Regions from separate parts of the Homo sapiens genome. Here region 2 is linked to region 1. Evidence: fine-mapped QTL for protein levels in blood plasma. Region 1 holds a variant in brackets. A gene starts in the other region. All regions are shown on their forward strands. Region 1 holds the start of UQCC5 (ubiquinol-cytochrome c reductase complex assembly factor 5). Region 2 holds the start of TIMP2 (TIMP metallopeptidase inhibitor 2).

The links. A credible set is the group of variants that fine-mapping cannot tell apart. PIP is the posterior inclusion probability: the model's chance that the variant is causal. The UK Biobank Pharma Proteomics Project read protein levels with antibody pairs (Olink). The fine-mapping took linkage between variants from a reference panel, not from the people measured, so its PIPs are less certain.
Region 2: TIMP2 starts here. The variant in region 1 is the best candidate, but not a certain one, in a credible set for the plasma level of the TIMP2 protein (UK Biobank, PIP 0.61).

What each region holds. Positions count from the first base shown.
Region 1 is chr3:52,534,502-52,544,899 of GRCh38, forward strand. It overlaps UQCC5 (ubiquinol-cytochrome c reductase complex assembly factor 5), which reads left to right and starts at 2,104. Exons shown (of 2, transcript NM_001124767.2): 1 at 2,104-2,405; 2 at 5,923-7,389. The coding sequence starts at 2,255. The coding sequence ends at 5,984. It also overlaps a transcript of NT5DC2 not described here. RefSeq lists a silencer at 1,790-2,089 and an enhancer at 2,423-2,956. The variant T/G (reference allele first, on the strand shown) is at 1,813.
Region 2 is chr17:78,917,001-78,933,664 of GRCh38, forward strand. It overlaps TIMP2 (TIMP metallopeptidase inhibitor 2), which reads right to left and starts at 8,387. Exons shown (of 5, transcript NM_003255.5): 1 at 7,959-8,387. The coding sequence starts at 8,088. RefSeq lists enhancers at 1-252, 1,703-2,678, 6,547-6,616.

The sequences.
Region 1 (10,398 bases):
GGTTCGGACCTCGGCAACTGGCCGCACTGACCCGTCAACTCCCGGTTTCCCGGCGCACGCCCCTCGTGAGATGCTGTGGTCTTTTCTAGCAACGTCGACAGGCTTTCCAACAAAATTCCTCTTTCCTGCGCAGAACCGCTCTCCACTCGCATTTCTTCTGCTCAGATCCGTATTCCGAGCCCGCACGCATACCAGGCTGTGCTCAGGGTCCGGAGGAGGCCGACCCAGTAGCCGTGGGCCCTGTCGGAGGGGAGCCAGCTGGGCGCGCGTTGTTTTCTGAGGTGGCCGCGCTGTCTTTCAGGGTGTGTGTACATTCGAAACTCCACTGAACCTTGATTGAAGACCTACAGTGTGGCAGTCCATGGCCTGGGGACTGGTAAGGATTGAGGCCGTAGGATGGGCTCGAGTGTGGCGGTGTCCCCAGGGCCCCAGTGAGCAAGTGGGTGTGCTGGGAACCTGGCCACAAGTGAACCTCCTCCAGGCGAGGGGATGCCCTGCAGCATCCAGCCGTCAAAACCTCCTGTAGAAACGGGAGCGAGCATCAAGCCTGTGTGTGTGCATGCTTGGGCGGAGTCTACCCGGAGGAGAAAGAGGCTTCCGGGCTGGCCCTCCAAAGCCGGTTGTACAGGCGGCAGCTCAGGCTGCTCACTGCGGGCCCTATGACCCTTTCTGGGGCCCTGCTTGCTCTCTCCAGTCTGCTTTTGTATATTTTGTGTCCATATCACCAAATCGTCTCATTGGTTCTAAGCTTTCATTTACCTTCCTTAGATTGTCTAATAGTTGTCTCCTTTCTCAAAGCTGTTCCTGCAGTTTTTACTTTAGTCCTAGGTAATGGGGTGACAGCCCCTTTCAGTTATCTTCAGCAAGCACAGCAGCATGAGAAGACGCAATTACAAGTGAAGTCTCTTAAGTCAGAGCCCTGCTTCTACCTGGCATAGTCTCTTAAACTGTCAGTTAAGAGACTACATATAAACAATACACGTTCAGACTCGGCGCGGTGGCTCACGCCTGTAATCACAGCACTTTGGGAGGCCAAGGCAGGAGGATCTCTTGAGCCCAGGAGTTTGAGACTAGCCTGGCCAATATAGTGGGACCCCCATCTCTACAAAAAATTAAAAAATTAGCCGGGCGTGGTGGTGCACGCCTGTAGTGGTGGGAGGATGGCTTGAGCCGGGGAGGAGGGGGTTGCAGTGAGCCGAGATTGCGCCACTGCACTTCAGCCTGGATGACAGAGCGAGGTCCTGTCTCAAGAAACAAACAAAAACCATGTTTGGGAATACATGTGAAGAGCGAGGGCTCTGCCAATCATTATCATCATAATGAATATTCTAACTAATATTAATCAGTTACTATGCTCCAGGGTTGTGTTCAGTGCATCATTCCTATTACCGCACTAAATTATCACAGCGTCAGAACAAGGCCTCCGTTTTACGGCTTAGGGAATTGAGGCACAGATGGGCTAAGGGAGCACCTGTAGAGCAGGGATGTGGTTTGGTAACAGAGTGCATGCTCTTTATACTGCTCTTCTGCGATTATTGTGAATAAAGCGCCTACAAGTGCCTGTGGAACTGTAAGTGCCCCATACAAGATAGCTTTTATTAATTTTAGGGTTCTCACGGGGCGCTTACTTAGATTTTTGCTGTGATAATTGATAAAGTTCAGCTTTCAACACTCCATATCAAATTCTGTTACTTTAGAAGTCTAGGCACCAATCACGTCTCCGAAATAAACGCAAGGCATTGCATAATTGCATTTTGGAATGTGGTGCTGTACATAGTCCATCAGAGAGGGTCATCACTTCTATCTGGGTAT[T/G]AGGAATAAAAATGGCGGTGGCAGAGTAGGGGGCGCGGCTGCCAACTGCGAGCTCAGACCTGCACTGGGGAGGCAGGGGGCGGGGCCGGGCCGGCGCCACGTGGGCTGTCCTTCCCTTTTGGGCCGTCCCACCTCCAGAGCTGAGGCGCCTGCGCCAGCTCCTTCGAGGCCCTGCTCGGCTTCAGGGAGCACGCGCGCCCTGCCGTGCTCTGATTGGCGGAGCTGCACGCCCCCGCTGCAGTCTGATTGGCGGATCCGCCTCGCTTTAGAAGGTCGGCGCCCAGTTCCGGCACTCGTGCGCCTACCAGACAGTGGCGGAGGACGGCGCTCGCTAGTCTCCCAGGTCGCGGTACACGGCGAGAACGGGCGGGGCGGTCTCGGCTGCGTCCGGGCGATCCAGTGCTTAGTTCCGTCATATCCCTCTCCACGACCTCGGTCGAGCATGTTCACCAGGGCCCAGGTGAGACGGATTCTGCAGCGGGTGCCCGGGAAGCAGCGATTTGGCATCTACCGGTTCCTGCCCTTCTTTTTTGTCCTGGGAGGAACGATGGAGTGGATCATGATTAAAGTGCGCGTGGGCCAGGAGACCTTCTGTAAGTGAGGGGGTAGCAGTCTCTGTTTCCTTTCAGGAAGGCACGAGGCGGTAGGGATCCGTTTTTCTGGGGAGTATTCTCAGATTGCAGACCGCGCATTCCACTCAGAGCGCTGGGCGAGTGCAGTTCCATTCGCTTGGCAGTCAGGGCGGCCTGGCTCTCCTGTAGGCCGGGCACATTGGCGTCCAGCCTTGTGACCTTCCCTGCACTTACAGGCGAGATCACGTGCTTCTTCCAGCCCTCTCATGCCTGCCCTTCACCCCTGCCGGTGACATCGTTTGGGCTTAAGGAACAGACTTGCTCACAACAATCGTAGAAGGGGGTGGATATGAGGGGTCAGGGAAACTCCTGCTAACTAGCCATTTCTCTTTGGATTCTTCTGTCCAAACTCTGGAGGGAGCTGATCTGCCTGGCTTTGCTAATTACCACTACCTTTACAGGACAGTCATTGGCACCAGGTCTTTGGTCTGGGTCCAGATGATCAGCACTGTAAAGATAGTGGTAACGCCTGGCACTGCATTACTGAGCATTAACTCTGGACAGGCCAGTTCCTTTCAGGAGGACTTCCCCAACCCCTCGGCCCTTTCTGCTTTGCCCCTCTCCTGAAACGCTATCACTTGTGACTTGCCAACCCACATTTTAAAGAATTGTTACATTAGTGATTCCTAAAGATCCTTAGTCCTTCTGTTCATCCATTCATTGATACTTAATGAGCATTCTTGAGGGGCTATAATGAACAAGGCAGAGGTGTCCCTTACCCCAGAAGAGCTCTAATGGGAAAGAAGATGATAAAGACAATTAGCATACAAAGTGATCAGTGCTGTGAGAAGGAAGTGGGAGGAACATAGGACTCTCGGGTGGGCGCCTCAACTGGACTAGATGGTGCAGGGAAGGCTTCCGGAAGCAGCTACCAAGTAAAGTAGGACCTGAAGACTGAGTAGGTGTCAGTCAGATGAGGGGAAGGTGTGTGGAATTGAAAGCATCTCCATGGCAGTGGTAGGAGCACTTGTGTGAGAGTATGCTGTGTGTTTGAGGGATTGAAGCAGATCAACAAAGTGGGGATGGCTAGAAGGGTGCCTGGGCAGGGTGGCAAAGGGACTGGAGAACCAAGAATGGATCCCAAGGATTGAGTCATTTTAGGGAGAGGCTTTAACATGTGGAGAATGGCTCCTTGTGGACAGATTGGTAGGAACAGTTACGCTGTATGGCTGTCCAGAGTTGAGACAGTGGCCTGGTCTAGGTTGGGGCAGAAAGGATACCAAGAAGGGATGGAAGTAAAAGACAGCCCAGAGGTAGTACTGACAGGGCATGGTGATTAAGTGGACTCAGGAGATGAGGAGTGGAGGCTTCTGGTGGGACACCTGGGGCAGGGGGTAGTGCATTTCCTGAAGGTGCCGAACACAGGCAGGGCCATCCTGGGCACCATCTGGGACGTGACGAGGTAGATATGGTTATACAGAGCTGAAGCTCAGGAGGCAAATCTGGGCCAGAAATTGGGATTTGTGAACCATTCAGAAGCAAATTATGATGGAAGTCAAATCCCAACATTTTAATTTAATTTATTTATTTTTTGAGACTGAGTTTCGCTCTTGTTGCCCAGGCTGGAGTGCAGTGGTGCGATCTTGGCTCACCGCAACCTCTGCCTCCCAAGTTCAAGTGATTCTCCTGCCTCAGCCTCTGGAGTAGCTGGGATTACAGGCATGCACCACCACGCCCGGCTAATTTTGTATTTTTAGTAGACATGGGGTGTCTCCATGTTGGTCAGGCTGGTCTAGAACTCCTGACCTCAGGTGATCTGCCCACCTTGGCCTCCCAAAGTGCTGGGATTACAGGCGTGAGCCACTGCGCCTGGCCCAAATCCCAACATTTTAAGGGTAACTGAGAATGGCCAGAAAGGCAAGGAGGGAAACCAGGAGGATTTGTTATCACAGAAGACAGGAGGTTAAATACATCTGGCTCTGTGAAGGGGAGGTAACCCCCCTTCCTCTAGGAGAGACTGCAGGATATGCAAATAATGATCTAGAAGGAGAGGGTGGAGAGAGGCTGGAGATACTGGACCCTTGAGAGGGTGGGACCAGAGCTGGGTGACAGGAGTAAGCCCTTGGAAGTTAGCTGGAAGAGTTCCTTATGATGACTTTCCTCTGTGAAGGAAGAGAGGAAATGGCCATTTGGGGGTGGGTGAAAAAGAGTCAGGATGATGGCTGAGGAAACAGGATTGTCAGACACCTCAGTGGACCCAGTTAGAGGCATCAGTTGGCCCCTCAGGACACAGCAAGCAGGGTGAAGCATGGGGAAGGGAGGAAGTTGGATTAATCTGTGGTTGGGGTTTTGAGGGTGTGTCAGGAAGTTAAGATATTGACAAGAGTATGAAGGAATTTTAGCTGATTTGCCAGGAGAGAGAACAAGAAGCGGCTGAGCGGGTAAGACGGGGCCAAGGACCTGGGGAAGAAACGTGAGGTCCAAGGACAGGAGGGCTGGAAAGGTAACGGGGGTTGTGGTATGAACAGAAATCCTTCAGAGGAGCCCTGCAAGTGACTGGAAGATGTTGAAGGTGAAGGGTACTGGAGCTTCATCCCCATGGGTAATGGTGGTATCTGGGGAGAAGGCACAGGACAGGGTCAAGGAACCTGAGCCAGAGGCCAGCACTTTTGGTGACTGAAGGGGCATGATGGAGAGCAGGTGCCAAAGAAAGATGGTGGCAGACAAATGGCATGAGCCATGAAGGAAGAAGATTTTTTTTTTTTTTTTTTGAGACAGAGTCTTGGTCTGTCACCCAGGCTGGAGTGTGGTGGCACGATCTTGGCTCACTGCAGCCTCTGCCTCCTGGGTTCAAGCGACTCTCCTGCCTAAGCCTCCTGAGTAGCTGGGACTACAGGTGCCTGCCACCACACCCGGTTAATTTTTGTATTTTTAGTAGTGACGGGGTTTCACCATACTGGCCAGGCTGGTCTCAAACTCCTGACCTTGTGATCCGCCTGCCTCGGCCTCCCAAAGTGCTGGGATTACAGGCGTGAGCCACTGTGCCCGGCCTGGAAAGAAGATTCTTTACATGAAGGTGGCGAGTCAAAGGTCTGGCAAAGCAGCAGCTGGAACAAGGAAACTGATCTCCTCTCCCCACCTGAAGGTTTCTGGATATGGGAGAGGGAGCATCAGAGAGCCAAGAGGCAAGAAGTGCCTTTGAGGAGCCAGGTTTTAGTTAAGAAGGATGACTTCAGAGCACAGAATAGAAATTATGGGGGAGAAGGAAGTGAGGGACATCTTAAAACACTAAGAGATGTGCTAAGACATGATTCTATCTTTCAAGACACTGACTTTTACCCTATTTAAGTCTAGAACTCCATTATCATAGTCCTCATCTAACTCAAGTTTTGTTTTAAGTTTATTTTGGCATTGAGTTAAATATTAATGCCAAGATTCAGAAGTAGGTGACAGACCTAGACTATTGGTTAAATTATTCAGATTGTTTTAATTTTAAATATGTTTCTTAAACATCTGAGCAACTTTTTGTTTGATACAGATGATGTCTACCGTAGAAAAGCCTCAGAAAGACAGTATCAGAGAAGGCTGGAAGATGAATGAGACTGAACTTCAGCAGTCAATAAAGTCAATATGAATTTTTACTATTGGTTTCAGTGCCTTTTAAAATATACTTTTCAGATCTCTTGTTCTGACACAGCTTGTCCTTTATCAGCTGCACAATATTCCAATAACTGTTTTTGCAAAGAATTTTTATAGTTCTGTCTCTGCTTGAGTACTTCCCAAGTCACTGCTGGACAGCACTTGTGGGAAAATTATTTCCTCCTAAAACACTCACTCGATGAATCTAGTCCATGAAATATTTCTTAAACAATTCAAGGATCAATCAGGATGCTTTTCAGTGAAGCCCGAATTGTTTTCGGCAATCTTTGTTTTTAGGCAACTAATTATAACCTTATTTACTTTTTTGCAGAATTCAAATTAAATTATGGACACATTCTCTATTGCCAGATCATTTAAACCAGGATAATTATGCAGGTTGTATTTCTGCCAGCTACTAGACTATAAACTTTTTGCTAGGGTGGTGGAAATTCTTGATTGACTACGCATTTCTCATGCTAGTGTTCTTGTGAACAGAAATATGCTCCTCCCTTGCTTGGCTCCCCTAAACTGCAAGGGCTGGATCTTCATGAGGACTGTGGGCAACAGGTTTCACACTACTCTAGGATGAAGATGTTGCTGTTCGATTCAGCTGCTAGAAACAGTTGCTCCTTCCATGAGAAAGTGAACCTACACAGTATAAAGCATCCCAGACTTGAGCTAAATCAGAGGCTCAGTCTATTGAGTGATTTGGCAATCTGACCCAGTGTAAGTTTGGATCAGCCTGGTAGAAAAAGCAGATACCTTTCCATGCTTGCATAGCCACATCTAACATCGTTTCAAGCAAAAAAAAATCTACATACTAAAGACTAAGTTTCAGAATAGTTTCTAACTATTGCATGAGAATAAAGCTGATGCTTAAGGCCATAGGGTATCCTCAAGTTAATGATCTCTGCCACAAACATGTCTCCTAATTTTTTCTAGATTTTTCTTCTAATTTTAGTCCACTTATCTTAGAACCAATTCAGTAAAGAACCATTAACTAACTACTCCCATCTCCTTAAAGCACTACCTACACTACAGTGCAGCAAGCCCAGAGTCACAGCTGGGAGATGGCTTGAATGTGAAAGGCCAGTAATGACCTCTGCCATCAGGGAGAGGACGGTGGTTCATCGTATTCTCATGCCCAGTTGTGTCATCTAGGATTCCTGGTAAACCTAACCTGATAAACCATTTTTAGTGACTTGACTGCTGTATAAAAACTATAGTATGATTCTCAATTATATGGCCATACTCCATGTTTGCCCTAACCCACCTTGTTTTAGGAGTTTAGTATTTGATACATATAGAAAATACGTCATACCTTTTACAAAGAATAATAGTAAACACTAATAAAACCATTGGCTAACTTTTGTGTCTGCTGTGGGTTCATTCCCTGGCCCATCCCCCTGCTTCCACCCCACAGAGAACCATTAGACTGAATTTTGTGTTGGCCTTCTCTAGAGCTTTCCTCTCCATTTCTTTTTCTTCTTTCCATTAGAATGTTAATTTATTTAAGGACAACAGACTTTGAAAATGATGGCCAGGGTTGGTGGCTCAAGCCTGTAATCCAAGCACTTTGGGAGGCTCAGGCAGGAGGATTGCTTGAGGCAAGGAGTTCAAGGCCAGCCTGGGCAACATACACTCCGTCTCTATTAAAAGAAAAAAGAAGGCTGGGTGCAGTGGCTCACACCTGTACTTTCAGCACTTTGGGTGGCCGAGGCAGGTGGATCACCTGAAGTCAGGAGTTCGAGACCAGCCTGACCAACACGGAAAAAGCCCGTCTCTACTAAAAATATAAAATTAGCTGGGTGTATGGCTGGGCATGGTGGCTTACGCCTGTAATCCCAGCACTTTGGGAGGCTGAGGTGGGCAAATCACGAGGTCAGGAGATCGAGACTATCCTGGCTAATACGATGAAACCCCGTCTCTACTAAAAATACAAAAAATTAGCCAGGCGTGGTGGCGGGCACCTGTGGTCCCAGCTACTCGGGAGGCTGAGGCAGGAGAATGGCGTGAACCCGGGAGGCAGAGCTTGCAGAGAGCCGAGATCGCGCCACTGCACGCCAGCCTGGGCGACAAAGCGAGACTCCGTCTCAAAAAAAAAAAAAAAAAAAAAAAAATTAGCCGGGTGTGGTGGCAGGCACCTATAATCCCAGCTACTCAGGAGGCTGAAGCAGGAGAATCGCTTGAACCTGGGAGGCGGAGGTTGCGGTGAGCCGAGATCGCGCCATTGCACTCCAGCCTGGGCAACAAGAGTGAAACTCCGTCTCAAAAAAAAAAAAAAAAGATTGGACAACTTCTGACTTTTAGGCAGGTAGACTACCAAAGCAATTATTGTATTCAATGGAAGATAGGTTTTCAGAGCACATTAGTTTGGATGCTGTGAGTGAGAACTCATTTGTTAGGGTGCAAGCTTTTTTTGAGATGAGTTTCACTGTCACCCAGGCTGGAGTGCAGTGGCATGATTATAGTTCACTGCAGCCTTGAACTCTTGGGCTCAAGCGATCCTCCTGCCTCAGCCTCCCAGGTAGCTGGGACTAGCTAGCTACCATGCTTGGCTAATTTTTAAATTTTTTGTAGACACAGGGTCTTGCTGTGTTGACCAGGCTGGTCTCAAAATCCTGGGCTCAAGCAGTGCTCCCACCTCAGCCTCCCAAAGTGTTGGGATTACAGGCATGAGCTACTGTGCCCAGCTAAGGTATATAAGCTTTTAATTTTTCCTCAAAAGTATTTTTAACTCTCCTACTAGGAATGACTCTATCCTACTTATCAGACACTGAACTATTTAAGGGCGCCAGGAGTAGTGGCTCATGTCTATAATCCCAGCACTTTGGGAGGCTGAGGTAGGAGGATTACTTGAGCCCAGGAGTTCAAGACTAGCCTGGGCAACGTGGTGAAACCCTGTCTCTACAAAAAGTACAAAAAATTAGCCAGGCCTGGTGGTGTGCACCTGTAGTCCCAGCTATTTGGGAGGCTGAGGTGGGAGAATCACCTGAGCCAGATCAAGACTGCAGTAAGTATGATCCCAGCACTGCACTCTAACCTGGGCAATGGAGTGAGACCCTGTCTCCAAAAAAAAAAAAAAAAAAAGCCGTGAAAAGAATTGCAGTACCACCAACTGTAAACTACAGGGCATAAATTTTAATAAATTTCAAGAACTATACTTATTGCAGAATGCTGAAAACCTGATTAGCATTTATTACTAGAACTCTACCTCCACTGTGGTGTTGGGGAAAGAATATGGGCTTTGGAGTGTCACTTTATTATCTGAATTTATAGAGAAAGTACCTAATAATAGTACAACAGTATTACAGCCCCCCCCAAAAAAAGAAAGAAAAAAAGTAGTGAATAAATGAGTTATTTTTGTTCATCTAGCAGTTCTATTTTGGAAGTCTTACCTACATCCCTGATGTGATATTTAATCTCCATTTTGTGTGTGTGTTTAAATTTTTCACACTGAATTAACTCTCTTTAAAGAAATATACTCTTAGCTGGGCGCGGTGGCTCACGCCTGTAATCCTAGCACTTTGGGAGGCCGAGGCAGGCGGATCACGACATCAGGAGATCAAGACCATCCTGGCTAACACAGTGAAACCCCATCTCTACTAAAAACACAAAAAATTAGCCGGGCGTGGTGCTGGGCGCCTGTAGTCCCAGCTACTCAGGAGGCTAAGGCAGGAGAATGGCGTGAACGACAACAACAAAAATATATATATATACGCACACACACACTCTTGGACCCTGTTGTTTTCCAAAGTAATTTATCTCCTAGTAAAGCATGTTAGTGCTTAGTCTTCACACGAGTATTAAATCTGGAGTTTCTTGTCTCATTTATGTGCTATCTGCAAGATGTAAATACCATGAAATAGCCAAAACAGGGAAAAGGGACAGTCCATTAATTTGTTTAGTTCTGAACTTTCATTCAGGGACCTAACATACTTCCAGGCTAAAATGGAACAGAGTAGGCTGGGCGCAGTGGCTCACACCTGTAACCTTAGCACTTTGGGAGGCTGAGGCAGGTGGATCACTTGAGGCCAGGAGTTCAAAACCAGCCTAGCCAATATGGAGAAACCCTGTCTCTACTAAAAATTCAAAAATTAGCCAGGCATGGTGGCGCATGCTGCAGTGAGCCAAGGTTGCACCACTGCACTCCAGCCTGGGTGACAGAGTGAGGTTCCGTCTCAAAAGAAAAAAAAAAAAGGAACAGAATAATAGCAATATTTGTTTGCTCAGTGTTCAGATGGGATGTCTAGCTATACATCAATGATTGTTCAAAATATGCTCAGGGGCACAGATGCCGGTACTATCCTAAATTCAGGAGAACAGAACCACAGGGATTTGCAAAGTGATATTAGAGGAAAACAGTTGGTTGCTT
Region 2 (16,664 bases), not on the chromosome of region 1:
ATTCCTGCGCTCACTTCCTTGAAGATGGGCACCATGGCTTTGGAGTTTGAGACCAGCCTGGCCGACAGGGTGAAACCCCGTCTCTACTAAAAATACAAAAAATTAGCCGGGCGTAGTGGCGGGCGCCTGTAGTCCCAGCTACTTGGGAGGCTGAGGCAGGAGAATGGCGTGAACCCAGGAGGCGGAGCTTGCAGTGAGCCGAGATCCCGCCACTGCACTCCAGCCTGGGCGACAGAGCGAGACTCCGTCTCAAAAAAAAAAAAAAAAAAAAATACAAAAATTAGCTGGGCATGGCAGCACACACCTGTAATCCCAGCTACTCGGGAGGCTGAGGCAGGAGAATTGCTTGAACCCGGGAGGCGGAGGTTGCAGTGAGCCAAGATCGCACCACTGCATTCCAGCCTGGGCGACAGAGCAAAACTCCGTCTCAGAAAACTAAATAATTCCTTGACACACTTGCCATAGTATTTCTGTGTACGGTAGGCACCCAAATTCTATTGTAAAACAAAATATAAAAACACTTAAGTGAATAAATTCTGTAAGAAGCAGGTATCTAAGACATAGACACCAGGCCCTTCCTAACTGGTGAGGTCTGGAGTTCCCTCAGGCCATGTGTGGTCCAGCTGTGATCAGAGTTTGAGATCAAAGAGCAGCTGCCGTCTACCAAGGACGTCTTCCCCATGGAAGACAACCACAGAACCTCCCAGGTCTTTGGAGCCATCCCTGAGACCAGCTAGGAGGCCAAAGGACACTGATGGCATCCTTTCCCCAGAGCTGGTTACAGGTCTGCCTCGGACTCCCCTCGTGGTGGTAGTGTCTGAGCGGATCCTGGCTGCCCAGGGCGGCCGAGTGCAGAATGAGGGTGGAAGAGGAGAGAAAGGCAAGATCGTTACCATCGCTCAGCTCCGAGACTAGGCAGATACTCACAAGAAACAGAAGACTCGAAACCTATAAAAAGACTCCTTTTAAATGGCAGTGACTTGACGTTTGGAGGGCCACAGGCACCTTTGAGAAGTTGGCGGCTGCCACTGTCCACAAAAAAAACACGTACGCGTGCACACACAAACACACACACACACACACACACACACACACACACAACTTCACTTACAGTTTCCGGGCTTGTGACCACCCCCAAACCCGCCAGGCCTATCTCTGGCTGGGTGTTCACACACTCTGGGTTAGGACCCCTCTTTTATAAAGACTGTTCCTCAATTTGCTTCTTAGCGTAAACACACTCTCAACCTGACTTGCTGGGGCTCCGGAAGCTTTCCCTGGGCTCCAGTCTGACCTGGCTGACTGGGGAGTAGCTCAGCCCTCAGTTGTAAGGTGGGAATCATCGGGGCGGGGTCTCTGTGCCCTTCCCTCTGCCGCTGCACAGCCACGTCCCAGCAAATGCACGAGGGCACCAGGGCGTCAGGGCACAGGCTGCAGGGGTCCAGGCAGGTGGGCCCTGGGAGGTCCTGGGGACACCAGCTTCATCCTGCCTGCCACTCTGAGACATCCATGCTCCTGACCATCTCTCCATTGGGAAGTCTGGGTCTGCCCGCCTTCCCTCCTCCCAGCAATCTCAGGGCAGCTCATCTGCCTGCTTACTCCACCCCCCGACACTGAGGTGGTCAGCCTCCACACTTTCTGTTCAGACCCACGGGCAACAAAAACAAAACCTTGGCCAAGCACTCACAATATCAGATATTCATTAAAAAAGTATATATAGGCCGGGCACCGTGGCTCACATCTGTAATCCCAGCACTTTGGGAGGCCAAGGTGGGCAGATCACTTGAGCTCAGGAGTTCGAGACCAGCCTGGGCAACATGGCGAAACCCCATCTCTACAAAAAATTAAAAAAATTAGCTGGGCGTGGTGGCTGCTTGGGAGACTGAGGTGGGAGAATCGCTTGGGCCAGGAAATTGAAGCTGCAGTGATCTGTGATTGCACCACTGCACTCCAGCCTGGGTGACACAGCAAGACTCCGTCTCAAAAAAAAAAAAAAAAATTATATTTGGAGTACAACTCTGAATCCATATGCTAACTATTCATAACATTCTTAGCACCGAGGCTGTACTGGGCACCCCTCCGGAGACGACTGGTCTATGCCAACTTTGGCGGGCGGCAGCAGCACCTGGAGAGTCCTGAAACTCCAGTGCCACCCCCAGGCCCGCTCCAGCACGCGGAGTTAGGCGGCTGCCTTCTACCAGGCTCCCTGGGCAACGCCCGCTGTCATTCCACAGCCAGAACATCTTTGGTGGCTGCGTGGGTCCCGGGATGGAATGCAGATGTCACATGACAAGCCAGAGCCGTGACATTTGGCCCCAATCTCCTTGTGGGTCCCCCTGAATCCCCAGGCTCCTCTTTGGCCTACTCTGTACCCAGAACTCTCACCTTTCCTGGGGCAGTTGGTCCCTTGGCTTAGAACACCTGTGCACACCCCACCCTGCTGCCGCTAAATGACCAGGGGTTACGGTCCCCAGTGCCGTCCTCCAGATGCGGCTTCTTCACCCTCCCTTACCTTGATTTCTTCACTCTGCCCTCCCCTCTTGAAAAAGACCATCTGCTGGGTGCGGTGGCTCAAGCCTGTAATCTCAACACTTTGGGAGGCCGAGGTGGGCGGATCACGAGGTCAGGAGATCGAGACCATCCCGGCTAACACGGTGAAACCCCGTCTCTAATAAAAATTCAAAAAAATTAGCCGGGCATGGTGGCGGGCACCTGTAGTCCCAGCTACTCGGGAGGCTGAGGCAGGAGAATGGCGTGAACCCGGGAGGCGGAGCTTGCAGTGAGCCAAGATAGCGCCACTGCACTCCAGCCTGGAGACAGAGTGAGACTCCATCTCGAAAAAAAAGAAAAAGAAAAGAAGACCATCCTAGCCATGCAGCCACTTGCCCTCCGTCCCTGGTTTGTGAGCCTGTGCGTGCACCGGGGGACAGAGAGAGTGTCCAGGGCATGCACCCCTCCTGCCCCTGCCACTGCCACGTCTGCCTGTCTTTGCTTCCTTCTTATCTCCTCCTCCCTGCTGTTGCATCCCTCCTCGCAGCTGCCTGGGAAGCCTCGGGCAGACCTCTTTGTTGTTTCCGAACCCAAGACGTTCACCCCTACACACGACCCCCACTGCATCGAGTCAGTGGTTCTGCATCAGGACTGGAGACGGCTGCCCGCGCCTCTCAGTCTCCCAGGAGTCATCTATGCCCTGTTCTCCATGTGCTCAGATGTCGCCACAGAGTCTGAACCTCTCAGCCCACACCAGTGGCATCTACCTAGCAACCTGGCTGCGACAGCAGGGAGGAGGGAGGCAGTACCCAAGCCCACCTGCAGCTCACAAACGACAGGCCAGGACTGCGTACGTGGCTCTGCACCCCCAGAAGGGTGCAAATAGGGGAGGCCCGAGAGGCTCTGAGGCTGGCACTGTCCTCAGATCCCAGATAGGGAGAAACGTGTGTTGTCCAGAGAGCTCCTTCCAGCACCTGCCATACCTCCAGGCTGTGCACAGCTCTCCCTGCTCTTCCAGTCCCCCTGCCTTGGGAGCTGCCAGTAATTCAGGGGTCAGTGACTCCCCTGACAGATCCTGTCCCTCCAAGGACGCTGTTCAAAACCAAGCCGAAGAGCCTCAGTTCTCCCCACAGCTCCCTCCTCAACCTACCATGGGGCCTTCTATCCTCACATCTTGCAAATGCATTTCACATTGTCACATGATTACTCCTGAATTTTGGTTATTTCGAAAGTTTATCTGTTGTTAATTATTTACCGAAACCACACTGAGTGGACTGACTTTATACCACACCTGGGCAGTTGAGGAGGGGAGGCCTGCTCACCACGCCGGGCAGCAGGAACCCCCTTCCACACCGCCTGGTGCCAAGATGTACCACCCCCTGCATCCCCCACCACAGGGACAATGTCTTGCTTCTCCCTTACATCCCCGGGGGCAGAGGCAGCCACTCCATAATTGCTTGTTGAAACACAGACAAGCCCAATATGAAAATCAAGATGAACAAAACTGACAATACAGATCGATCACATACTTCGCACAACGAGTTGCCAACAGTTTCTTTAAAAAGCGCCACGCCGCCCCCTCGCATGGAAGGCCTGACCCAGCTCACATGAATCTGATGCTGTGTTGCTTTTCCTGAGCACGTGTCCTGAAGACAGAGCCATTTTTGACTGCGTGCTGTGTGTTTTCTGGGGTGGCCCCTACTATCTGTCTGGTCCCTGTCACTGTGTCCCCCAGGAACCAGGTCACCCTTGGCTGTTCACCCCAGAAAATAGCAGTTGTTCCCCCTCTTGGTTGTGGACCCCTCTCTAGCTGGAGCTGGAGCTCCTCGGGGGATTTGCAGAGGACAGTTTCTGGAGGTGGGAACATGTGAGGAAGATGTCATCGCAGAGGTCTTCTAGGATAATGTGTGGCCTTAGGTACTGCCACCCAAGCCAGAGGAGAGGTTTTATTCTCTGCATCCAGAGAGCTCCTGGCTTTACCCTTGAGTCCAGAAACGGGCCCAAGCAGCCCGAGTCTGCCAAGTAGCTCAGCTGGCTAAGTGGCTCCAGGCATGGGACTGCCTGAATGGTGAGCCCAAAGCTAATTTCCAGCCAGATCCCTGTAGCTGTGCAGGCTGGCAGTAGATGTGAAGGATTTCACTGGGTGAGAGGGAGCCGGGCCAGCAGCGCATTTGAACAGTACTGTAACTGAGACACAAAATGCTTCCCGTTTGTGCTGGCCTTGCTGGAAAGGACAAGGACCTGGGGCCTTCCAGGAAGAAATCAGGTCACCTCTTACCATCCCTTATCCTAAACATCACCACCTCATCATGAATTATCTTTGCCGACCACAGTTCCGGTCCTACCAACTGCAAGAGCTGCTAGGGAGATACCTCCCAGAAATCCTCAGCCGGGCAGACAGAAATCTGACTGTTTCTTAAGCCAATTGCCTCTTGTAGACACCAAGCCATTTAACAAGGCTGCATGCAGCCAAGAGTAAAAGGAGCCAGCTTGCCACATAACAAGCCAGCCTTTATTAACCTCCACTGTACCCCCTTTCTGAGACCCCTGGGTCACAGCCCTGGTTAAATCACCTGTGGGCCTTTTAAAACTGCAAAAGCCGAAGTCTGAGCAAGACCCTCTGTATCTGCAAAGGGACCTAGACCTGAGCAATCTTTAAGAATCTTCCAGGCAATTCTGCTCTGAGCCAGAATGGGGAACCATTGCTGAGAAAGTCACAAACCTGCATCGCTTCGAGGAGAATCGAACACTGGAGAATAGACAGGCCGCTGTCGTCCCTGTGGGATTTGTTCCGGGACCCTACCCTGGGATGTCCTGGGTTGTTTATCCCAAGTTGGTTGAGCACGGAAAGGGTGACTGGGAATAAGAGAAGGCAGCCTGGTGTATGGGCTGAATTACGTCCCCCCTCAAATGCACATCTAGTCAGATCCTATGAATATGACCTTATTTGGAAATAGAGTATTTGTTGATCTATCAAGATGAAGTCATACTGGATTAGGGTGGGCCCTAAATCCAATGGCTGCTGTCCTTAGAAGAACAGGGCAATTTGGCCGGGCGCGGTGGCTCACGCCTATAATCCCAGCACTTTGGGAGGCTGAGGCAGGCGGATCACCTGAGGCCAGGAGTTCGAGACCAGCCTGGCCAACATGGCGAATTCCTGTCTCTACTAAAAATACAAAAAATTAGCCGGGTGTGGTGGCAGGTGCCTGTAACCCCAGCTACTTGGGAGGCTGAGGCAGGAGAATTGCTCGAACCCAGGAGGCGGAGGCTGCAGCGAGCCGAGATTGCGCCATTGCACTCCAGCCTGCTCTCCAAAAAAAAAGAACAGGGAAATTTGGACACAGAGACACACGAGAGAAGGCCATGTGAAGACAGGCGGAAATGGAAGTGATGTGTTCCTTGAAAATGGAACCAAGCAACATCAAGGAGAGAGGCCTGGAAGAGATTCTCCCTCACAGCCCCCAGAAGGAACTGGCTCTGTGGACACCTTTTCAGACTTCTGGCCTCCTGAGCTACAGAGAATCGATTCCTGTTCTTTTAAGCCCTCCCATTTGTGGTAGTTTGTCACAGCGGCCACAGGAAGCGAATGCCCTGAGCTCTGCAGTGCAACTCTGGCATCTGACTGGGCCTCTGAGCCGGGATGGGGTGAAAAGTTTTAGCTACAGGATGATTTTGATGCAAAGATTTAGACACAAATGCCAGGCAACCCAGAAGAGGAGAGTGCTGCGCTGAGCATGAAGGAGGCGGGAGGCACGCACTGCAGCCCTCCACCCTCTGCCATCCTGGATCCACACCCCACGCAGAAACAGCTCCCAGCTCAGTGGCCGCCTTAACTTATGCCAAGCAAGGACAGAGTGGCTGCCTGGACATTCTCCCACACAGCTGAGGAGTGTGTGTGTGGGGCGGGGTGGGGGGGGGGGCGGGAGGGGGAGGGGTCCCAAGGCCCAACTCCTACAAATCCAACTCCCAGGTCCTTTTATCCACAGCCTCCTTCTGGGCCTTGGCTACATCCTGCCCCAGCACGTGCTGGTGAGCCAAGGAGCCTGGACAGGCCTGCACTCCTCGTGGACCCCCAGAGAAAGGCCCATTATGGCTCCCTCATCAAAGGAACCTCTCCTTCACCCACAAATCTTGCTGAGCACCAAGGCTAAACTGGAGAAAAGACCTCATTTCCCCCAAACTGGGTTTTGTGGAAACTGACACAGGCACACACCAAGCCTTCCGCCCAGGTGGCCTGAGCCACCTGAGACCTGTGATCTCAATAGATTGGTGCAACTGAAAACTTCCCCAGCTGGGCACGCAGCTCCTAGGGCTAACCGGGGTGGGGCAAGAAGCCGTGGGCGGGGTATGGGAAGGGCGTGGCTGACAGCAGGAGAAACAGAAAGTCCCACCTCCACTCTGGGCAGGTGAGGGGGCCCCCGCCTTGCTCCATCTGCCCTGGACAGGTCACTCGACTGAGACTCAGACATAAGAAGGAAGGAGGGCAGGGGGCTCCGAGACCACCTGCCGTGTAGCCAGACTTGCCCCAGGAAAACCATGCTGACCAGCACCAGGGCTGCAGAGGCTTGAGGTGCAGGACCAGGGTGGAAACTTCGAGCCAGCGGGTTCCTCCCATTTCTGCTGGTCCTCCCCCTCCATGGATCAGAACAAATAACTGGGCCCCTCCTGCCTCCCTCCATGGCGCCTGTCTTTTGGGGGCTAGGAGTCCGGAGGTCATGGGTATTTGCTGGGGAATCTGAGCAGCAGCACAGTCCCACGTGCCGGGTCCGGTCACCAAAGTCTCCAGCTTTTGTGGACGTCCCGAAAAAGCGGAACATTCGGGGGTCCCGGTCCCTGCCCAGCCAGTTTGCAGGGCCTCCTGGGCAGGGCGCAAGCAAGGAGCCACGCCAGGAGACGCCACCGGCTTTTTCACCTGCCCCTCTGGGCCTGTGGAACCTGCCTCGGGTAGGGCGGGCTTCCATCCCACCCTGGCTTGATCGGGGAGCCCCCAAATGGGGCTGGTGGGAGAAGCCCCAGCAGAGAAGCCCTTCCCCACCCAGCCCCAAGCCCAGAGAAGCCCAACTCCCACCTTATCTGCGAAAGTTTCTTCCTGGGGTCCCCAGTCCTCCAGCCCCCCGCCCCCACGCCGTGTCCCCCACGCTCCCCGCCCCCAGCGCTGGCATCCCAGGGCGCGCCGCCTGCCAAAAGCCAAACTGGCTCCCTTTCCTGGGGCTGGAGCTGCGGCGGAATTTCGGTGGAATTTTGAGGTTGAGACGCATCTCGGCAAAGAGAGGGAAAGAAAGGGAGAGGAGGGAGGGGGGAAAGAAAGTCGGCTCTGGGCGTCCACTTGCAGGATTCGAGAAGGCGCCGAGGGACCAGGAGGCGGGCGCTGGGGTCCCTCGGCCAGCGGCGGGCGGGCGGGGCGTCTGCGAACCCTCGGGGTCGCGGGGGAGGTGGGGCCCCGCGCGGGGGCTGGGGTCGCCGCTCCTTACCTACATCTGCATTGCAAAACGCCTGTTGCGGGTGCACCGGGGAGCAGCTGCAGGCGTCGGCCGGGCGAAGCAGCGTCGCCAGCAGCAGGAGGCCGAGCGCCAGCCGCAGGGTGCGGGCCGCGGCGCCCATGGCGGGCCGGGGGGCTGGGCGGGCGGGGGCCGCCGCTGGGGGGTCCGGGCGCTGCTCGCGGCGGCGGGCTGGGGGCGCGGGCGGGGGCTGAGCCGGGGCCGAGGCGGGCCCCTCCCGCGCGGCTCACCCTCCTCACCTGCCCCGCTCGGCCGCGCAAACTTTCTCTCCTCTTTGTCTCGGGGGCGCGAGGGGAGGGGCGCGGGGCGCAATTCGCCGGGCGGGGCGGCGGGGTGGGGGGCGGCGGGCGAGCGGCGCTGCGGTTCTCGGCGGCCGCGCTGCCTTCTACGGATGTGTTTGCTGCGGGCTTGGGCCGGGCCGCAGTTTTATTGCGCTCGGAGGATTTTCTGCTCCTCCTCCCGGTGGCTGGCGGCCAATGCAGGCTCTGGGCGCTCCCAGCAGCCCCCTCCTCCCCCTCCGCCCGCGCCTCCCCCCAGCCCGCGCTTTTGTTGTGCCCGGCCTGGCACGTCGGGGGCTTCCCGCACCACCTGGCGCCCGCGACCCGCACCCGCGCGGGGGTCCCCGGACGCCCCCAGCCCCCCGACCCCGGTCCCCGCTGCGTGGCCTTCTGCGCCCGGGGTCCCTGACTCAGCGCGGGGGACTCGCGCCCCGTTCTTCCAGGACACCAGGCGACCCACCCGCTACCCTTTCCCCTTCAGCTCGACTCTGGAGGGCTACGCTGCTCCGTCCCCCGCCACCCCGGGGTCCCTTCGAGCCCAGCCTCGGGGCGAGCCAAGGGGTGTCCTTTGGAGCAGGGGCCGTTCCCTGTCGCCACCTCCCCGTTTCTGTGGGCGGGTGGCCTATTGAGAAACTGACAGGATCCCTTTTTCAAATGGAGGCCTTAGAATTTTAAGTGCGCCTGGCCAGTTTAGTTGGGGGGTGGGGGGTGTGGTTACTGTGAACAAAACAGGATTTTATATAAACTGGCCATATTTTTGACCAGCCAACAAGAGACGGGGGTGGGCCCAGGCGCCCAGGAGCCAGTAGGATCGCAGCAGAGGCATTGGCTGGGTTCCGCTCACAGTTTCCTCTCTTAGTCCACAAATGTGGGAGCCGAAGGACTTTTCCCAAAACAGTTTTGTGTTCCAGGAAAGACCCAGGCATATGAAGGGATGAACATGTGTAGGGTGGTGAGGCGGGCTTCCTGGCTGTGAACCTGCCTGTGCCCGGCTGTGGGCACCCACCCTGTACATTTGGTGTGTGCCCCGTGGGGCTCCATGGACACTGCTGCACTCAGGTCAGCACTCCAGCCCTCAGGTCAGCATTCCAGAGTGTTTGCAGTCCAGCTAGGGAGAGGGAAGCCCAGGAAAATGACACAGGAAGAATCAGGGCGGGCACGGTGGCTTGCGCCTGTAATCCCAGCACTTTGGGAGGCCGAGACAGGAGGATCACTTGAGGCCAGGAGTTTGAGACCAGCCTGGCTAGCATTTAGTAGAGACAGTGAAACCCCGTCTCTACTAAAAATACAAAAAATTAGCCGGGCTTGGTGGTGGGCGCCTGTAGTCCCAGCTACTCGGGAGGCTGAGGCAGGAGAATGGCATGAACCCAGGAGGCGGAGCTTGCAGTGAGCCGAGATCATGCCACTGCACTCCAGCCTGGGGGACAGAGCGAGACTCCATCTCAAAAGAAAAAAAAAAAAAAAAAAAGCCCGGGTGCAGTGGCTCATGCCTGTAATCCCAGCACTTTGGGAGGCTGAGGTGGGCGAATCACGAGGTCAGGAGTTCGAGACCAGCCTGGCGGCTAACACGGTGAAACCCCGTCTCTATTAAAAACACAAGAAATTAGCCGGGCGTGGTGGCGCGCGCCTGTAGTCCCAGCTACTCAGGAGGCTGAGGCAGGAGAATCGCTTGAACCCGAGAGGCGGAGGTTGCAGTGAGCCGAGATTGCGCCACTGCACTCCAGCCTGGGCGACAGAGAAAGACTCTTGTTTTTTTTTGTTTTTTTTTTTTTTTTTTTTAAAAAGAATTGCCCACTAAATTGTGCGGTGCTGACTTGAGGTATGAAACTTTGGAAAATAGTGAAAGAATGGAAAAACAGCTTCTTTCTGTTTGTGTATGTTTTGTAACAGACAGTTCTGAGAAAAGTTAAATAAGCAATGCCGTTATTTTTAGCACCCTGACAAATCCAAAGTCACTTTTTTGGTTTTTGTTAGCGTGAAATAGAGTTGGGTCGTTCACAAAATGATGTTTGAAGCTAACGTTTAAAAGTACAGTTAATTCAGAAAATTGTTATGTGCTGGCTGCCTTCAGCCATTTCATCGTTTTCTTTCCTTCTTTTTGGTTACAGGGGGAACAAAATGCTGTTGAACTTGTGTTTCAATTTGTCAGTTCATGATAGAAACAGGTAGCATAGGGGCTCTCGGTCTTTTAGACAAGCTCTACATATAAGTGATCAGGTACATGTTAGGGTGATAAATACCTTAGAGCAGTTGTGGTGCTGACAGCCAAGGGGGTGGGGCCAATGTGGGATGTACCTGGGAGGAAAGGGGGGCCTGGGCTCCAGGGTTGGGGGGCGTGAGACTGGAACTTCCAACCCAAGGCCTCGCACCTGTATCCTGGACTGCCCTCCCCGAAGTCATCCCCACCAGCACACAAACAGGCTGGAATTGCTCCCAGGAAAAGTGAAGCAGAAATCTTGCCAGGTGCAGTGGCTCACGCTTGTAATCCCAACACTTTGGGAAACTAAGGTGGGAGGATCACTTGAGGCCAGGAGTTTGAGACCAGCCTGAGGAACATACTGAGACCCCATCTCTACAAAAAAAAAATTAGCTGGGCGTGATGGCTCACACTTGTAGTCCCAGCTACAGGGAAGCTGCGGTGGGAGGATCGCTTGAGCCTGGGGAAGTTGAGTCTGCAGTGAGCCGAGATCACACCACTGCACTCCAGCCTTGGTGACAGAGTGAGACCCTGTCTCAAAAAAAAAAAAAAAAATCTCTCCCCTCAATTCCCCCACCAGAGAGTACTCTACTTTTCTGTTCCCTCTACCATTATCTCCTCCAAACAGGTCTCTAAACCAGAAGTTTCCAGCTTTCTTTTCCTCCCTTTTCTCTTGGTTCTCTCTCTCTCCCTCCTCCCTCCATCCATCAACAAATACTCATTTGAGTATCTGCTGTAGCCTGGACACCGTCCTAAGAGTGAGACATTCAGCGTCTACAGAACAGAGGAACATCCCTGGAACAGCAGGTGGAAACACGCAAGGCCCCAAGGTTGGACGATGCTGGACCTGGTGGAGCCCATGGTGTGGCGAGGAGTGAGAGGAAGGAGGGCTGAGGCAGGAGGCCAGGAGCAGGGGCTGGGAGGGGACACGGCGGAGGGCAGCCAGGCTACCGGGAGGATGTGCATTTTGTTCTGAGTGAGGTGGGAGCCTTTGGAGGGTTCTGAGCAGAGGGGCAGGATCGGACGCATCCCCTGGAAGGATGGGACTCTGGTGGGTGGCCTGGGTGGGGGCAGGGAGCCCAGTGAAAGGGCAGGTGCTGGAGATGCAGAGACTCCAGAGTCACAAAACCCCTTTCTGGTGCAGTGCCGTGAATGGCTGACCTGCGGCTGCAAAGTCAGATGAAGAGGGGACTGAGGTCTGAGGGCCCAAATGACTCTCCCAAGGGCACAGCAGGGAGGGGAGAGGACAGTCCCAGCAGCCAGGCCTCCCTCGCAGCCCACAGCCCCCAGCTTGCTGACCCAGTCATCTCCCTGCTGCTTGGGGCCCTCAGGGTCTTGGCTCCTGAGCCAGCTTCTGTCTCATTAACCACCCTCCACCTTCTCTTCCAGTTAGGGTCCTCACACTTCAAAATCAAGGAAACTGAGGCCTCAGACCAGGAACCTACTGAAGACAGGGAGTAGACTGGAATCTGGCTCATGGCAGCACAAACCCACTTTTTCTTTCTTTTTTCTTTTTTTTCTTTGTTTGAGAGCCGGGGTCTCACTCTGTCACCCAGCCTGGAGTGCAGTGGCTTGATCTCAGCTCACTGCAACCTCTGCCTCCCGGGCTCCAGTGATCCTCCCACCTCAGCCTCCTTTGTAGCTGGGACCACAGGTATGCGCCACCACACCTGGCTATTTTTTGTATTTTTTGTAGAGACACAGCTTCTGCAAGCTGCTCCTTCTCCTTGTCCTTCTCTGTGCTTTGTGGCCAAGAGGGCTTGACCTTGCAAGCAAACTTGAACATGGGGAGGGGGCTGCCACCCATAAGGGAAGTGACAGGGTCCGCATGCCCCATGCCCAGGGCAAGAGAGGAAGGAGGAAGGCAGACCCCGGGCTGGGAGCTCCCTCCACTGCTTCACTGCTTTTTTTTTGAGACAGAGTTTTACTCTGTCTCCCGCTGGAGTGCAATGGCACCATCTCGGCTCACTGCAACCTCTGCCTCCTGAGCTCAAGCAATTCTCATGTCTCAGCCTCCTGAGTAGCTGGGATTACAGGTGCCCACCATCACACCCGGCTAATTTTTGTATTTTAAGTAGAGACAGGGTTTCACCATGTTGCCCAGGCTGGTCTGGAACTCCTGAGCTCAGGTGATCCGCCCGCCTCGGCCTCCCACAGTGCTGGGATTACAGGCGTGAGCCACCGCGCCCAACCCATGGCTTCACTCCTAACCAGCCCCCTTCACTTCTCATCTTGATATTGGTGGGTGGACTACCATAGGGACCATAAGCGACACCCAGCCCAGATGCAGCCTGGGGGACCCTGGCTTGGATCAGCTTAAGAGCAGAGGCTCTCAGCCTCTCAGGACAGACAGGAGCACGAGGGAGCCCTGTGAAGTATGGGGGTGATTTCAGGGCCCTCAGACCACGCTCCAGGGGCCACCGCTTCCCACGAGGAACATCGTCTTGCTCCCCCACCCCCTCAAAGAGACCTTCCTGGCAGAGAGCACAGCAGAGCTGTCAGGCGTGTGTGCACCCTCGCCTGAACACACCAGGCGAACACCTCCCAGGCTGGACCTGATGAATCCTGTCCGGGGCCGGAGGAAGTGCCAAGGCCTCCTCCCTGTCGCTCCCGTCTCAGGCCACCAGGCAGGACGCCCTCCCTGCTGCGCCGGGCTGGCGGGAGGATGCTGCTCTTCTCGGTGGCCTCGCCCTCCCAGTCTGGATGAGAGCCATCTTCCCCTGAGCAGGTCACGTTCTCTCTGTGGAGACAGCTTGAACGGACCCGAAGCCCCCACGTTCTTTCTGGCAGGTTCCTAGAGAGCCAGATGTTCTCATCCAGAGACAGCATGGACGTTGGCCCCACACACCCGGGAAATTGACCCCCTGCCGATGGCTGGAACTCCGGCCCTCAGGGGAGTGTCCAGGGCAGTCTCAGGGGCAGGGAGCCGGCAGCTGTAGAGGAAGGTGGGGACCGTGTCTGAGTCTGGCTGTCTGGGAGGTGACACTTCAGTCAGGTGACACGTGGCTGTCAAGAGTCTGAGGCCCGGCTGGATGGGCAGGCAGCCCATCTGTGCCTCCCCATCCAGCCGGGTCTCAGACTCTTGGTCACAATGGGCACCCAGCCCACGTGTCCGTCCCCAACATCCACTGGTGGGGCTGTTCACCACAGGACATCCTGAAGATGACAAGAAGGTGAGTCAAGAGTGATGGCTGGGCGTGGTGGCTCACGCCTGTAATCCTAACACTTTGGGAGGCCGAGGTGGGCAGATCACTTGAGGTCAGGAGTTTGAGACCAGCCTGGCCAACATGGTGACACCCCATCTTTACTAAAAATATAAAAATTAGCCGGAATTCACTTGAACCAGGGAGGCAGAGGTTGCAGTGAGCCAAGATCCTGCCACTGCACTCCAGCCTGGTCAACAGAGCAAGACTCAATCTCAAAAAAAAAAAATAGAGTGACTGGGACCCACTGTGCTTGAGACAAGATACACAGGCAGCATGAGCGGCTCATCGTGTTCTATGGTGGACGTGCTGAAGGGCATTTCAACATGGATTTCATTAGCCATCTTCTTTAGGGGCCGGGCTTCTCCGCCTTGGCACAGTTGACATTTGGGCCAGATCCCTCTTTGTGGGGGGCTGTCATGGGCACTGTAGGGTGTTCAGCACCATCCCTGGCCGGACCCACTGGATGCCAGCACCCTCTCCAATTGCAACCATCAAAAATGTCTCAAGACATTGCAAAACGGTCCTGGTTGGAAACCACTAACAAACCAATAAAAGTCTTTGGTCCTGAGCAAAGCAAGGTGCAGAGACATAGGAACAAACAGGTTCTATAGAGAACAAGAATGCAGATGGGAGAGTGAAGGTCCCCACAGCCTGGAGACCAAGACATGCACCATGCTGCCGACACCGATTGTCAGGGGAGAGAGGCCAGGCACAGAATAGAATTTTTTTTTTCTTTTTTGAGACAGAGTCTCGCTCTGTCGCCTAAGCTGGAGTACAGTGGCACAATCTTAGCTCACTGCAACCTCCACCTCCCGGGTTCAAGCAATTCTCCTGCCTCGCCTTCCAAGTAGCTGGTATTAGAGGTTCCCACCACCACGCCCGGCTAATTTTTGTGTTTTTAGTGGTGACGGGGTTTTACCATGCTGGTTGGGCTGATCTCGAACTCCTACCTCAAGTGATCTGCCTGCCTCGGCCTCCCTAAATGCTGGGCTTACAGGCATGAGCCACCGCACCTGGCCGAAAAAGATTTTTTATAAGTGTCCATGGTATGGACACAGTGTCTTGCACCTGTAATCTCAGAACTTTGGGAGGCTGAGGCAGGAGGATCACCTGACACCAGGAGTTTGAGACCAGCCTGGGCAACACAGTGAGACCCCATCTCGACAAAGAATTAAAGAAATTAGGTGGTCAAGGCCAGGTGCAGTGGCTCATGCCTGTAATCCCAGCACTTTGGGAGGCCAAGGAAGCTGGATCACTTGAGGCCAGGAGTTCCAGAGCAGCCTGGCCAACATAGCGAAATCCTGTCTCTACTAAAAATACAAAAAATTAGCTGGGCATGGTAGCATGCCTGTAGTCCCAGCTACCCGGGAGGCTGAGGCACAAGAATTACTTGAACCCAGGAGGCTGAGTTTGCAGTGAGCCGAGATCGTGCCTGTACACTCCAGCCTGGGCGACAGAGCGATACTCTGCCAAAAAAGAAAAGGAAAAGAAAAAGAAAGAAAGAAATTAGCTGTGCATGGTGGCATGTGCCTGTAGTCTCAGCTTTTTGGGAGGCTGAGGCAGGAGGATCACTTGAACCCAAGAGTTCAAGGCTTTAGTGAGCTCTGATTGGGTCACTGCACTCCAGCCTGGGCAACAGAACAAGAGCCTGACTCTTAAAAAAAAAATTTCCATAATAAACAGCATGTATAATACTTCATATATGTGAAGTCAAATATGTGAGTGGATCTAGAAAGAAGTATACAGGCCAGGCACGGTGGTTCACGCCTGTAATCCTAGCACTTCTGGAGGCCACGGCAGGAGGATCGCTTGAGCCCAGGAGTTTGAGACCAGCCAGGACAACATGGCGAAGCCCCATCTCTACAAAAAATACAAAAATTAGCCGGGCATGCTGGCACACGCCTGCAGTTCCAGCTACTTGGCAGGCTGAGGCAGGAGGATCACTCGAACCCAGGAGGTGGAGGTTGCAGTGAGCCGAGATCGTGCCAGTGCACTCCAGCCTGGGCGACAGAGTGAGACCCTGTCTCAAAAAAATAAAAAATAAAAAAAAAGAAGCATACAAAGGTGTTCACAGAAAGGTTAGTGGGTGCGCCTGGGCAATGGGAACTCAGGTAGGTGGGTGTCTTCTGTCCTGTTCCGTGTGGAGCAGGTAATGTAATATTCCGATGAGGGTCCGGCCCTGAAATGGGCAGGCCTGGGGGAAGGAGCACAGATGTTTCCCACCCTTTCTGTATAACACTATTAAAGCCTTCTTGGCCACAGCCATCAGGGTTTACTTTTTAAAGATCCTGCTCCACCTTCCAGCCACTCTTGGTTCACGCCTCCCTTTGGTTTTCTTGTTTGCTTGTTTTTGTTTTGTTTTTTGAGACAGAGTCTCCCTCTGTTGCCCAGGCTGGAGTGCAGTGGCACAATCTCGGCTCACTGCAACCTCTGCCTCCCAGGTTCAGGCAATTCTCCGGCTTCGGCCTCCCAAGTAGCTGGGACTACAAGCATGCACCACCACGCCCGGCCTTCCCTTTGGGTTTTGTTTGGCAGAGTCTGTTGATCTATTTCATGCCATCCCACAGGCCATCTTTGAGAAGGTGGGACTTTGGCCTCTCTCCGTCACTTCCATCTCCTGTCACCCCAACCTACCGCCCCTCCGCAGACAGGCACCCCTCAGGGCAAAAGCAGCCATGAGCCAGGGCACCTCCCTTTAGCAAACCTGCTTGGATTCCAGCCTCTGCACACCCCTTGTGCCCGGCACAACCTTCACAGCCCCAGGCAGCAGCCCCAAAGCCAGCCCTGTTGCCCTGGTCAAGTCTCTAGTGACACCAGAAAGAAAGGAGGAGAGGCAGAGAGGTTGTCCTGGTGGTAAGCAAGAAGCCCATGACATCACTGGCTCTACAGACTGCCACGGGTAAACAGCTTAGACCAGATGACTCAGGCTGAAAGCATATGAACCCTTCCTGCAGGGAGGCCGCCCGGATGCAACAGTGGTTTCACCCCTGAGCCGGGC